Linked DNA regions of Homo sapiens: regions 2 and 3 are each reported to be linked to region 1. Evidence: microRNA targets listed by miRTarBase, many of them from high-throughput screens and not tested one by one. Region 1 holds a microRNA gene; each other region holds the end of a gene's coding sequence.

What was found. The annotated mature microRNA hsa-miR-3160-3p reads AGAGCUGAGACUAGAAAGCCCA and lies in region 1 at 2,565-2,586, shown strand. An mRNA with a match to its seed (bases 2 to 7 or 8) in the 3' UTR can be bound and repressed. Matches are read on the target gene's strand: a 7mer-m8 pairs with bases 2 to 8, a 7mer-A1 pairs with bases 2 to 7 and ends in A, and an 8mer does both.
Region 2: the mRNA of ATP8B2 is a reported target of hsa-miR-3160-3p. Seed matches in the 3' UTR shown: 8mer at 2,576-2,583 and 7mer-A1 at 2,354-2,360.
Region 3: the mRNA of GTF3C4 is a reported target of hsa-miR-3160-3p. Seed matches in the 3' UTR shown: 7mer-A1 at 1,280-1,286.

The regions. Positions count from the first base shown.
Region 1 is chr11:46,449,294-46,453,524 of GRCh38, forward strand. MIR3160-2 (microRNA 3160-2) reads left to right here and starts at 2,514; the gene lies at 2,514-2,594. All of the region lies in intron 11 of AMBRA1 (autophagy and beclin 1 regulator 1), which reads right to left. MIR3160-1 (microRNA 3160-1) reads right to left here and starts at 2,596; the gene lies at 2,512-2,596.
Region 2 is chr1:154,348,493-154,352,723 of GRCh38, reverse strand. ATP8B2 (ATPase phospholipid transporting 8B2) reads right to left here. Exons shown (of 28, transcript NM_001370597.1): 27 at 4,186-4,231; 28 at 1,420-3,884. The coding sequence ends at 3,606. Among named protein-coding and RNA genes, the nearest start is that of ATP8B2, 25 kb to the right of the region's middle. RefSeq lists enhancers at 2,426-3,409, 3,410-4,231.
Region 3 is chr9:132,688,592-132,692,782 of GRCh38, forward strand. GTF3C4 (general transcription factor IIIC subunit 4) reads left to right here. Exons shown (of 5, transcript NM_012204.4): 5 at 290-4,191. The coding sequence ends at 354. Among named protein-coding and RNA genes, the nearest start is that of GTF3C4, 20 kb to the left of the region's middle.

The DNA.
Region 1 (4,231 bases):
ATCAACAAAAAAACTCCAGTAACTATTAAATAATTATAGCAAGGTTTCAAGATACAAGGTCAACTGCTTTCCTATATTGCAGCAATGAACAAATGAATGACTGGAACTTGAAATTAAAAATACACCACCACTTACATTAGCATCAAAAAAATAAACTTAGGTATAAATCTAACAAAATATGTACAAGGTCTATAGGAGGAAAGCTACAAAACTGATGAAAGACATCACAAAGGATAAAACTAAATTAGCGAGATATTCCATGTTCATGAATAGGAAGGCTCAGTACTGTTACAATGTCAATTCTTCTCAGCTGGATCTACAGATTCAACACAATCCCAATCAAAATCCTGAATTATTTTGTGAATATTAACAATCTGATTCTAAAGTTTATATGAAAGGGCAAAAGACCCAGAATAGCCAACACAATATGGAAGGAAAACACAAAATTGGAGGATTGACACAACCCAACTTCAAGACTTAATATAGGCCGGGCGCAGTGGCTCACGCCTGTAATCCCAGCACTTTGGGAGGCCAAGGCAGGTGGATCATGAGGTCAGGAGTTTAAGACCAGCCTGACCAACATAGTGAAATCCCATCTCTACTAAAAATACAAAAATTAGCGGGGCGTGGTGGCGCATATCTGTAATCCCAGCTATTCAGGAGGCTGAAGCAGGAGAATCGCTTGAACACAGTAGGTGGAGCTTGCAGTGAGTCGAGATCACGCCACTGCACTCCAGCCTGGGCAACAGAGCGAGACTGTCTCAAAAAAAAAAAAAAAAACAACTAATGTCCACACAAACACCTACACATGGATATTTATAGCAGCTTTATTTATTTATTCATAATTGTCAAAACTTGGAAGCAACCAAGATGTTCTTCATTTAAGAGATGAATGGATAAACTGTGGCACATCCATACAATGGAATATTATTCATGCTAAAAGAAATGAGCTATCAATCCACAAAAAGACATGGAGGAACCTTAAGTGCATGTTACTAAATGAAAGAAGTCAAAGGCTACATACTATAGGATTCCAACTGTATGAGATTCTGGAAAAGGAAAAGTTATAGAGACAGAAAAATGATGGGTAGTTGGTAGGGGTTGGTTTGCAGGGAGGCAGAGACGAACAGGTGAGCACAAGATTTTTTTTTTTTTTCTTTTCTTGAGAGAGGGTCTCACTCCATTGCCCAGGCTGGAGTGCAGTGGTGCAATCACGGCTCACGGAAGCCTCAATTTTCTGGGCTCAGATGATCCTCCCACCTCAGCCTCCCGAGTAGCTGGGGCTACAGGTGTGTGCCACCATGACCAGCTGATTTTTTTTGTATTTTTTGTAGAGATGGGGTTTCACCATGTTGCCCAGCCTTGTCTCCAACTCCTGAACTCAAGAGATCCACCTGCCTTGGCCTCCCAAAGTGTTGGGATTATAGGCATGAGCCACCATGTACAGCCACAAGGAGATTTTTTAAGCAGTAAAGTTATTTTCTATGTTACTACAATGTTGGATACATGGCACATACATTTGCCAAAACCAGTGAAATTTACAACACCAAGCATGAACCCTAATGTAAACGCATACTTTGAGTGATAATGATGTGTCTACGTTGGTTCATCAGCTGCAGCAAATGTACCACACTGGTGTGGACAGTGGGGAAGCCTGTGGGTGTAAGGGGAGGGAGTATATGGGAACTGTCTGTATTTTCCACTCAACTTTTAATAAACCTAAAAAAGAGGGAGGGGCCACGACTTTCATTCACATTCTAGGAGACAGTGGGAACAGCAGCTGTTCATAAGGACAATACTAGTCATGGTAGTTCATATCTATCATATAACCACAGAAATTCCTTTCATTGAGGCTTAGAGCAAAAGAAGAAATAAAGATTATTCTGATGACAGACAAAACAAGGAGGAAAAGAAGCTTAAATCCAGTGATCCTGGCTAACTATCAGCCAACAACAATGGCAAAAACTAAGCTGCCAAGTCTCATTCCAGAGTCAGGTCTTCAACTTGTAGGCCAGAGCTCCCAGAATGTGTCTAGGGATAAAATCATAATAATCATCACAGTCACATGATAGGTGAGCTCTGCCAAGCCTAATAGCCTCTGTGCATCTCTCTACCTTTGCTTCTCTCAGAAACTCTTCTCTTCTGTTGCTTGGAAAGAATTAGGAATCTTTTTTCAAAACAGCTTCACAGCTTCTCTCTAAGATTTGTTCTAGGAGAAGGGAAATGAAAAGTATGATTCAACAGTTCAGTGAAGATACTGAACAATGGGAATCATTAGCAAATCTATCAGAAAAGCTAATTCGGGGAAGGTAAAAAAGGGCAAGTTGCAAAGAAGGAAATGATTAAATTACATTTCAGTCCTGAAAAATCTGTTTAACTTGAGACTTTCTAATTCAGAATGGCCATCTCTGACTGTGTGCTGCTGGGAAGATGAAATAAGAATGGGGTTGGGGATGTAAACACTCATCATCCTGGAGACACAATTACTATCTTTCTGCTTGGCTGTTATATGAACCTGCCCTGGGCTTTCTAGTCTCAGCTCTCCTGACCAGCTGAGCTGGAGGAGAGCTGAGACTAGAAAGCCCAGGGCAGGTCCAACTGAAAAACTTATCAACTTTTCAAACAGATTGACAGTTGCTTTGGGCTGGAGGGATGTGAGAGAGGGAAAGGGGAAGTGACTGCTGATGTGTATGGGGTTTTTTAGGAGGTGATAAAGATGATATGAAATATCTAGATAGAGGTGATGACTGCACAACTCTATATACTAAAAGCCATTGAAATGTATACTTTAAATAGGTGGCCTGTATGGTAGGTGAATCATATCTCAATAATGCTGTTATTAAGAAAACACTATTCAAATAAATGTCTATCAATTTGTGAAGTAAAAAATGGTAATCCTATTTTTTGGATCCATTTCATTTCCTTAATAATTAAGAGTATTGGTGAACATCTTTTCATTTGTTTACCAGCTCACTGTGTATCTTTTAGATGGTCTACTAGTGTCTTATGTACATTTTAAAAACCTTTGTTATTTTAAGGTTTTTTGTTGTTGTTGTTGTTGTTGTTTGTTTTTTAGATGGGGCCTCACTATGTTGCCCGGCTTGCCTTGAACTCCTGGCCCTTAAGTGATCCTCCTGCCTCAGACTTCCCAGTAACTAGGACAACAGGCACATGCTACCCTACCTAGCTTTGGTTACTTTAACTTTTCTCTTATGGATTATCTGAGCTCTCTGTAAATAAATACACTGGCTTCTGTTTACAAAAAATAATTCTCAGAGCAAGGGAACCATCTTCCCTTTCTGAGTATATCTGCATGGCATCCTAGGAAGAACACTTAATCTTCTTTCCAGAAAGCTTCATTCAAATGCAGTCTTAAAATCTGTCCTAAGAAAGGGGTATAACTAAGTACTCAGTCACACTCACTCTAATCATCATTTAATCTAATCTGAAATCACAGTCAATGTATCCTATAGCCTGGTACCTGGAAAAAGTCCCTGATGACAAATAAGAAGACTTCTTCCATGCTTAGAAGTGTCCCAAGTTTCTCTGAGTTCTCATTTATGATTCTGACATTGAGAAAAATGCCCAAATATATATGTGTGTCTGTCTGTTTAAAATTATAGCTTTACTGAGATATAACTTACAATTCACCTATTTTAAAGTATACAATTCAAGGTTATTAGCATATCCGCACAGTTATGTAACCATCAGCAAATAAATTTTACAACCACCATCATTACTGTCTAATTTCAGGCATTTTCATCTCCCCTAAATACCGTACCCATTAACAGTCACTCCCTTTTACTCTGTCCCACTCCTGCCCTAGCCCTAGGCAATCACTAATTGCTTCTCCTGGACATTTCATGTAATGAAATCATATGGTAGGTGGCCTTCTGTGTCTGGCTTCTTTCACTCAGCATAACATTTTCAAAGTTTATCCACGCTTATTGCATGTTTCAGTACTTCACTTTTTTTTTTTTCTTCCCCAAAGAGACAAGGTCTCATTCTATCACCCAGGCTGGAATGTAGTGGTGCAATCACAGCTCACTGCAGCCTTGAACTACTGGGCTCAAGCAATCCACCCACCTCAGCATCCCTAGTAGCTGGGATTACAGGCACGAGCCACTCTGCCTGGCTTCATTCCTTTTTATGACTGAATAATATTCTATCATATGTTTATAACTGAACCATAGGTTCATATGAGAATTAAATAGTAGTTTTTATTTTATAG
Region 2 (4,231 bases), not on the chromosome of region 1:
ATGGGGACCTAGGGGCTGGAAGCCACTCCCACAGGAGCCCAGGTGCTCAGTCAGCGCAGGGAAGGAAGACCAGGGATGCCTGCGGCAGAGGGGAGAAAACGGGGAGCCCGAGTGCCCGGAGCCTCCGTGGAGGCGTGTGTCTATATCGCGACGGAGAAAACGCGTCCCCAAGAGGCAATGAAAGTTAAAATGACATTGGCCCTGCCCCTCAGACACACATAATAGGATCCTGGGTGCAGGAGAGCCAGGGTCAGCGAGAGGAGCCAAGGAAGACATTCCCAGTGGCTGAACAGACCCCCAACGGGAGGCCAGCGCAGTGCTGAAGACCTGTCTTGTGGGAGGGGTGGACTTGGGGCCTCACCAGCCTCAAGGGATTAAGGCTTCTTTCTGTGTTTCGGGGGTGGGGGCACTGAAGCCAGATGCCACTTGCTGCCCAAAGCTCAGGGTTCCAGACAGACCCCAAAGAAAGGCTTGTGTGGACTGGACAGCCTCTCCCTGGGTGGAGGTGGGTGTCAGGTGGTGTTCCTGGCGGTCTGTGGCGGGATTCCCGCCAGGGGCCGTTTCTCCTGAAGAGGGAAACAGATCTTATCTTCACATCTTCCCCCCATACACCCTCCGCTCCCCCACCCTTTTTTTTTTTTTTTTTAATACAGGCGGGGTCTCCCCATGTTGCCCAGGCTGGTCTTGAACTCCTGGGCTGGGCTCAAGTGATCCTCCTGCCTCAGCCTCGCAAAATGCTGGGATTACAGGCATTGAGCCACCACACCCAGTCTACGTTTTTGAGAAGGATTGTTCCATAACTGAAGACTGGCTGGGTCAGGGGGAAATTAGCCTGCGGGTGGGGCTGGATCATGCTGATATTGGCCATCGGCGGAGGAAGCTATACTTCTTTCTCCTCAGGCCAGCACTAACCCTGGCCCTGACTCCTAGGACCCCATCCTCATCCGCCCTCCCTTCCCTGGAGGAAAGCTCCCTTTAATATAAGACTTTAGCTTCCTTGATACTCACTTGAGAAGCCAGGAAGATGTGAGGCATGCGGAAAAGCGCAGAGTTAAAAAACAAAACCTTACAATATTTACCAGGTACTTTCCCTACACACACATCCATCTGGCGTGTGTTAGGGATGACAGGTTGGCCTGCGTTTGGAGAAAGGTAAACAGCTCAAGGTCCTAGGCACCCAGCCAAAGTCCATACGATATGCCGCTCAGTACCACCCACTGCCCCGTCTTCATCTTCAGCTGAAACTCAGATCCCGGGAGGTCTGCAAATGGATGAGGTGCTATCCCACACCAGTCAGATTCCAATTTGTCCAAGATATCCCAGATCTACCCACTCAATTACATTTAAGAGACAGTTTCTGTCTTTACTTTCACCACCAGTCTTGGTTAAACATCAGAAAAGAGACAAATTACACACTTCTCAGAAATTGAAATTTTATAAAAAGGCATTTTTCTCTTATATCCATAAAATGATATAATTTTTGCAAGTATAGAAATGTGTCATAAATTATAATGTTCCTTAATTACAGCTCAATGCAACTTGGTACTTTCTTCCCTCCCTAAAAAACGAGAGAGAACCAAAAAATAATATATATATATATAACTGTATATATATATTTATATAATATAGACAAACAAAATATGAAAAAAAATCATTTCCTCTTTGGTATAAAAATCAGACTCTCACCTTGAGAGACACACAGACAGACATGATACTGGGTTTGTAAACTGTGTGGCCAAAAGGGATTTCCCTGCCAAGACTTCCCCTCTCCCATTCCCTGCCCACCCGCCCCCACCTCACTGCAGCCCATCCAGTTCCTTTGGGGCTCCCATATGGAACATTTAAAATCCCCCTACCCACTCCCAGCTCCAAACCATTCCTGAAGAATCCCCCGACCCACTATCAAAGAAGAGGAAAGGATTCTTCTCAAGGCTGATTAGGTAGCGACTAACTTGGGAAATGCCTTATTTAGGGAATAGCTTCATAGGTGTGGATGAAGTAAAGGACAGGCTGTGGCCAAACTCTGACAGTGTCCCATCCAGACCAAGCCAGGCACTGGCCTGGGCCTGGTTTTGCCCTTATCCTCCTCTACTACCCGGCACAAGGATTCCACCACCTCTTGCCAGAGGCTGGGCCTGAGGGGCGGGGCTCCTTGCTTACTGAAGAAGGGAGCAGAGAGGCCAATTCCCGTTCCAGCCTCATCTCAGGTGCACAGCTTCCCCCTGCAGCCCCACCACAGGGCCCTGGGGTGTAGATGCAAGAAAGCACCAGATGGGGAGGCAAAGGGAGGTCAAAAGGGAGTCTGCCAATAAACTTGGGTTTAAATTTAAAATTAAAGAAAACTACGCCTCCCTGAGCTGGGTGTGGTGGCTCACGCCTGTAATCTCAGCACTTTGGGAGGTTGAGGTGGGCAGGTCAGGAGGTCAGGAATTCAAGACTAGCCTGGCCAACATGGTGAAACATCTCTACTAAAAATACAAAAATTAACCAAGCGTGGTGGTGTGTGCCTGTAATCCCAGCTACTCAGGAGGCTGAGGCAGGAGAATCGCTTGAACCCAGGAGGTGGAGGTTGCAGTGAGCTGAGATTGTGCCATTGCACTCTTGCCTAGGTGACAAGAGTGAGACTCCATCTCAAAAAAAAAAAGAAAAAAAGAAAAAGAAAAAAGAAAAGAAAACTACCCCTCCCCACTGACCAAATTTCAGACCCAGCTTTAGCTCACTAAGGATTTGGGGGCCACTTTCCTAGGCTCCAGCCCAAGGCCAGCAGGACTAAGGAATCCAGGAATTGATATGTGTGTGTGTTGGGGGCAGAGGGCAGCACTTTACTCTCAAGGTGAGGAAGCAGACAGGACCAAACCCTCCTTTACACTCTCCCACTACCCTCTGCTCATGGGTACCTCCCTCCCTGGTCAGCTCCTCTGCCCCACAGAGCACTGGTCACTGCAGGCAGAGCCGACATGGATCCTCCCAAACCACCCCACAGCCGGCCAGGCTGCGGCATCCCAGTGTGTGCCAGCCTCCTTTTCCCAGGAGAGTTAAGACACCAACCACAACATAAAAGTCACATAAAAGCCTCCTCCACTTGCCAAATAAAAAAAGACAAAACCAAACTGGACACAACACAAATCAAGGAGAGACATACACGATGTGAGGGGCCGAGGCCCCTGCAGGTCTCTGGCTTCCCGGCATGGTACATTCTTATGTAATTCAGGAACAGAGGCACTAGGGCCCCTCTGGGGAGTAGGAGTAAAAAAATAAGGAGATTATAGTCTCCCTGTGGGTCCCAGGCAGGGCAGGGGCAGACACAATCTCTCACAGTTTTTTCTTGTTTTTGGTTCCACTTCTGGTCCCCGAGTGGGGCTGGCTCCCCGTGCCTCAGCCTCTGCTCTGCCCTTGGGCCTGCTCCCTCTAGCTCCCCAGCTGGTGGAAGGGCCTACAGCTGGGAACAGATGTCCCAGCCATGTGTGGTGGGACCAGCAGGACAGAGTCTACCGGGGGGACGGGAAGCAAGGAATGAGGACCAGCAGTTCCGAGACGCTGTTCCCTCAGTGACTGGCCAGCCCTGGGTGCTCTGGTCACTGGCACAGGGCATCCATCCTCGGCCTTCAGCCCTTGAGGGGCTTGTCGGCACCGCCACTGGGGCTACTGGCACTGTCACTCTTCTTCCTGCGCAGGCTCTCAATCCAGCTGGAGCTGGAGCGGGTGGTGAAGCTGGAGAGCGCGAGAGAGCTCAGCCGCATGTTCTTGCCAGACATGATGAGCTCCCCGAAGCCCTCCTGATGGGAGAAGGCATAGCCGGAGCGCCGGGAGCCAGTGCGGCCAACCCGCCGCATGCAGCGGTGCTGGGCCTTCTGCTTCTTCCTCACGAGCTGTGTGTAGCGGACCTGCAGAGGGGCACAGGGAAGAGCCCTCTGTCAGCGTGGAGGTGTCAGATATCGCCAAGGAGAAGGGACCCACAGCACCCGGGACCAGGCTGACACAGAGGCCTCCGACCCACAGCACCTGGGACCAGGCTGACGCAGAGGCCTCTGTGGCCAGCTGCACAGGGTGTCTGTCCCCAGGAAGAACAGATAAGCACCAACACACTGAACAGCCACATGGCCCCACAGAGCCCCCCAGTGTTCACATGAGGCCTTTCCAGCCACCCCATCTCTGCCTCCCACAGCAGGTAGCCTGGCTTCTCACCGTGTCGGAGAGATCCGGCTTCAGGTTGAGCCTGAGGAATCGGAAG
Region 3 (4,191 bases), not on the chromosome of region 1:
CTCCTTTCTTTAAATTGAATAAATTTAGCTTTATGAAACATTCTTCATTACCCTTATTTTCCTGTTTCATTACATTTAACTTTGTGAACCACAAGTTTAGTCCAGCCTCATTTGGAATGATAGAAACCGAAGCCCAAAGAAGTGAAGTGCTTTGTCTAGGGATATGTAGCTGGTTTATTGCAGAGGTGGGACCAGAATGCCCGTCTCTCAACGCTACAGTCCGGTATTCATCCCTTTTGACTGTCTTTTCCGAAGCTAACAGTTGATACCACTTGTCCTCCTTTTGCAGATCCCGACTGGATTAAGAGGTTACTGCAAAGCCCCTGCCCTTTCTGTGATTCTCCTGTCTTCTAAATAATCAGTGACGGGAAGATGGAAGGGCATGATGAACTCTGCCATAGAAAACTTCCTCCAGCCTGAAGAGAAGGATGCACTGGAGGAAGCCGGACCCTCACGAGTGGAGAGAAGTCCTTGGTGATTGTAAAGAGGGCCCCTGGAGCTCATTTCTGAATCGCACTCTCCATTTCCAGAGACTAAAGGATGTCCTTTGAAATGGCTGGACTCAGAGAGTTGGAGTCGTTTTGAGATGAGCATTAGCCCCAGCTTTGTAACCAATGAGGAACACTTACTTATTTTTAAGTATCTTGACAGAAGCAATTTGAACACAGTGTCCCGTCATTTCTAGAAACAGAATGGTCTCTTCTAGAGAGCTTGGATAAGGACCTTGCTGGGTTGAGTTAGGTTTTAATCCTTGCTTTGGTTTGGAACTGCCTTCGGGCTCCAGAACTTAAATTGCTTGGTCCGTGGCATCTGATGTACCAACAGAGATTAAAAGTGTAAAGCAACACATGGGCTGATGTTTTGTTCTCAGAAAATAGCTGCTGGTCTGCATCCCTCCATTCTTGTTTTTTATGCATATGGAAAACATTTTCCTAAAACTCTATATTCTTAAGTTGAAGCCAAGACTAAAATTTAATGTGTCAAATGATCTGGTGACTATTATAATGAATAATTGTGACTTATTTTTCATTCTCTCCTGGGTCATCAGGTTTCCTGACCCAACTCCTTAATCCGTATAAAGATGTCAAATACTGTAGTTCACCCACGCCACAGCCCTGCTTCAGACTTAACTGTGGTAGCCTAGATGAGCTATTTGTACACAGAGGAAAAAAAGATATTTTCCTCTTTTAGTAATAAGACTTTCAGTATTTTTAATGTTGACATTTCCAGATGTTTCATTTAGTATCCAGGGGTCTGTCTGGAGACTTCTAGAGAGGGACAGCTCAGAAGTGAGACCCTTGAGCTCTGGTGCTGTAAGCTTGTGCAATTAAGTTGAACAGAGCCTGGGAATTTCTTTCCTCTGCACAGTCCCTTGATATTTGGAATCCAGGTTCTGCCCCCAACCCCTACCCACCCAGTGGTCTGTTAAGATGTCTCAGATGGGGCTGGGCTTGGTGGCTCATGCCTGTACTCTCAACACTTTGGGAAGCAAAGGCAGGCAGATCACAAGGTCAGGAGTTCAGCCTAACCAACATGGTGAAACCGTGTCTCTACTAAAAATACAAAAATTAGCCAGGCGTGGTGGTGCACACCTGTAATCCCAGCACTTTGGGAGGCCGAGGCAGACGGGTCACTTGAGGCCAGGAGTTCGAGACCAGCCTGGGCAATATGGCGAGACTCCGTCTCTACTACAAATACAAAAGTTAGCCTGGCATGGTGGCGCATGCCTGTAATCTCAGTTACTCAGGAGGCTGAGGCAGGAGCATCACTTCAACCCAGGAGGCAGAAGCTGCAGTCAGCCGAGGTGGCACCACTGCACTTCAGCCTGGGCAAGACTGGAGACTGCCTCAAAAAAAAAAGAAAAAAAATGTTGGTACTTAGATGATACCATGACGGCAACCTCCCCACCCCCACCCCGCATTGATAGGTAGTGCAGACCAGCCCTTGGAGGCACTTCTAAACAGTCTGCTCAGAAATGTTTTCTGTTTCCTATTCAAATTGCTGTTTTGTCTCCTATGTTTAATCATGTATTTGCTATTCTGCTTATTTTTCTCATTTGGTGGTAATTTCAAGAAGAGCGTTTATCCACTATTGATTTTCAAGAAAGAAACCAAGCAGCATTGAAATCATGAGTAACAGAATTCAGAACATTGTATGGTGGAAGTCATTTGTGTCTGCAGCTGTTTTTTCACTTTACAATAAATAAGAGTAAAAATTGAGATCATGTCAAAAAATTATTGCAGTTTTAATCATTATGGCATAGTTTCACTTCCCCTCCCCCCATTAGAATCAGTGGAGATTTGTTCTTACTAGGGAATTTTGGACTGCTGCCATTTAAAACTTAGGTTTTTATTTAAAGCAGTTGTGCATTTTTGAGAAAATGTATTGGGAGTAACTAGAGAGGATCTCCCAAATTTTTTTGTATGTCTCTCTAGGAGTAAACATGGCAACAGTTTTTCTAGAACGTGGACTCACTGCAGGGACTGGACCCAATGGCATTGTTAAGACCCTAAAATCTAGCCACCACCTGCCTCCCCCAGGTTTCCACACACCCAGTTGGAAGGCCTTTCCCTGCCCTTGTCCCTGTCTCACACCCATGGAGGTTAAGCTACAGAGCTGGGGAAACAGGAGATTTTGAGTTAATGGCAGCCTCACAAATAGTGCTTCTGAATTTCTCTGAGGGTCAGCATACCTCATGGGAGTGTGTTGCTCAGTGCAACCTTGGAAAAGTGGGAATGGCACCAGACGTTTTTCAGGTGCCTCTTGCAATTCAAACTTACATCCTCTATACCGTCCTAAAATTTGCCTGATCTTATTTGGTAGATTTCAAGTTGCTTTCAGCTGTGACCGTAATAACTGTTTCAGGAACTGGAGAAATAGTGGAAGTGCTATTGCCGCGCTGCATGTAAAGCACAGGAGCAAAGATTCGATACAATTAGACCCTTTAAGCTACAACGTGGTTGCATTTGGGGAGTCTGATACCCACATAGGTATCACATTTTCTCTGCCTGGGGTTAATTTGTTCTTATTATTCTAGGTAAGAAATTGATAGCTTGTTATGCTTGGTACTCATTCTGAAATCCCTGTGTGTCCACCAGGCAGACTTCAAGCAATCTCTACCTACTATTATATCTGCCAAAACTACCAATTATTTTTCAATGTCAGAAGTTATTAGAGCCACTGGCAAAGCTCATGGTTGAATATGACATTTTTCTGCTTTTCCCTCTAAGAAGTTTTTGAGAATGTTAATGTTGAAGTATGCAGGCTGGACCTACCAGCAAGTTTAACACGTTAATTAGGTTAAAAAGAATATTAAAAGGCAATAATTAAATATTTCAATTATTTTGTAATTATAATGGTATCAAATAAGATGCAAAAGAAGTTGATGCTTATTGGTGCTTAAGAGAATTACAATACTGGTTTTATGAGCATCTTTTCTCTGCAACAGTTAAACTGCCTCAGAGTTTGTGAATTGCTGCAATTCCTGGAATGGAAACAGGAATTAGGGTCACTGGTTGATTGGCACAGGATCTTTCCATCGTTTCTGCTCCTGACCTCTCTCTCTTGCCTTTCCTTCCCCCAGACACCCTCTTGGTTTCCATTCCTTTAGTTCCCTCTGCTTTAGAACACAGATTACATGTTGGAAAGAAAAATGGATTAATGGTAAAATTTCTAAAAGCTAAATTGTACAGTGGGGTCTCACTTCCTAGAAGAAACTATTGGTAATATTTCTTTCTAAAGGTAATAGTATTAATTGTATCTGGTTTTCTTCAAAACTTAACTATAATTTCCTTGTCAGGGTGCTCAGTAGCTCTTGGTTTGACTTTGGGCTAAGGGATGTGAAATTTTAGCTCCTTCCCACCACCTGTTTCCCCTCACTCCCACCCCCAGCCAATATTCTTCATAAGCAAAAATTATGGTTAAGCTAAGCTGAATGGGTTATATTCAAAGTAAGTACAGACGGCAAATAGGCAGACAAATACAGGAATGTCTTTACAATTAGCCCACCATGGACTGTTTTGAGTCTCTGCATGGTTTCCATAATTCATTATGATGTATCTTTATGCTCTTTCACTGCTCTTCTGTGCGTTGGAGTTTAGCAATTCAGTGAGACTGGGGAGTGTCTCAAGAATGGAACCTTTGCCTTCAAGGTTGGGTCATCAAAAATCCCTCTAAAGGATCTAACTGTAA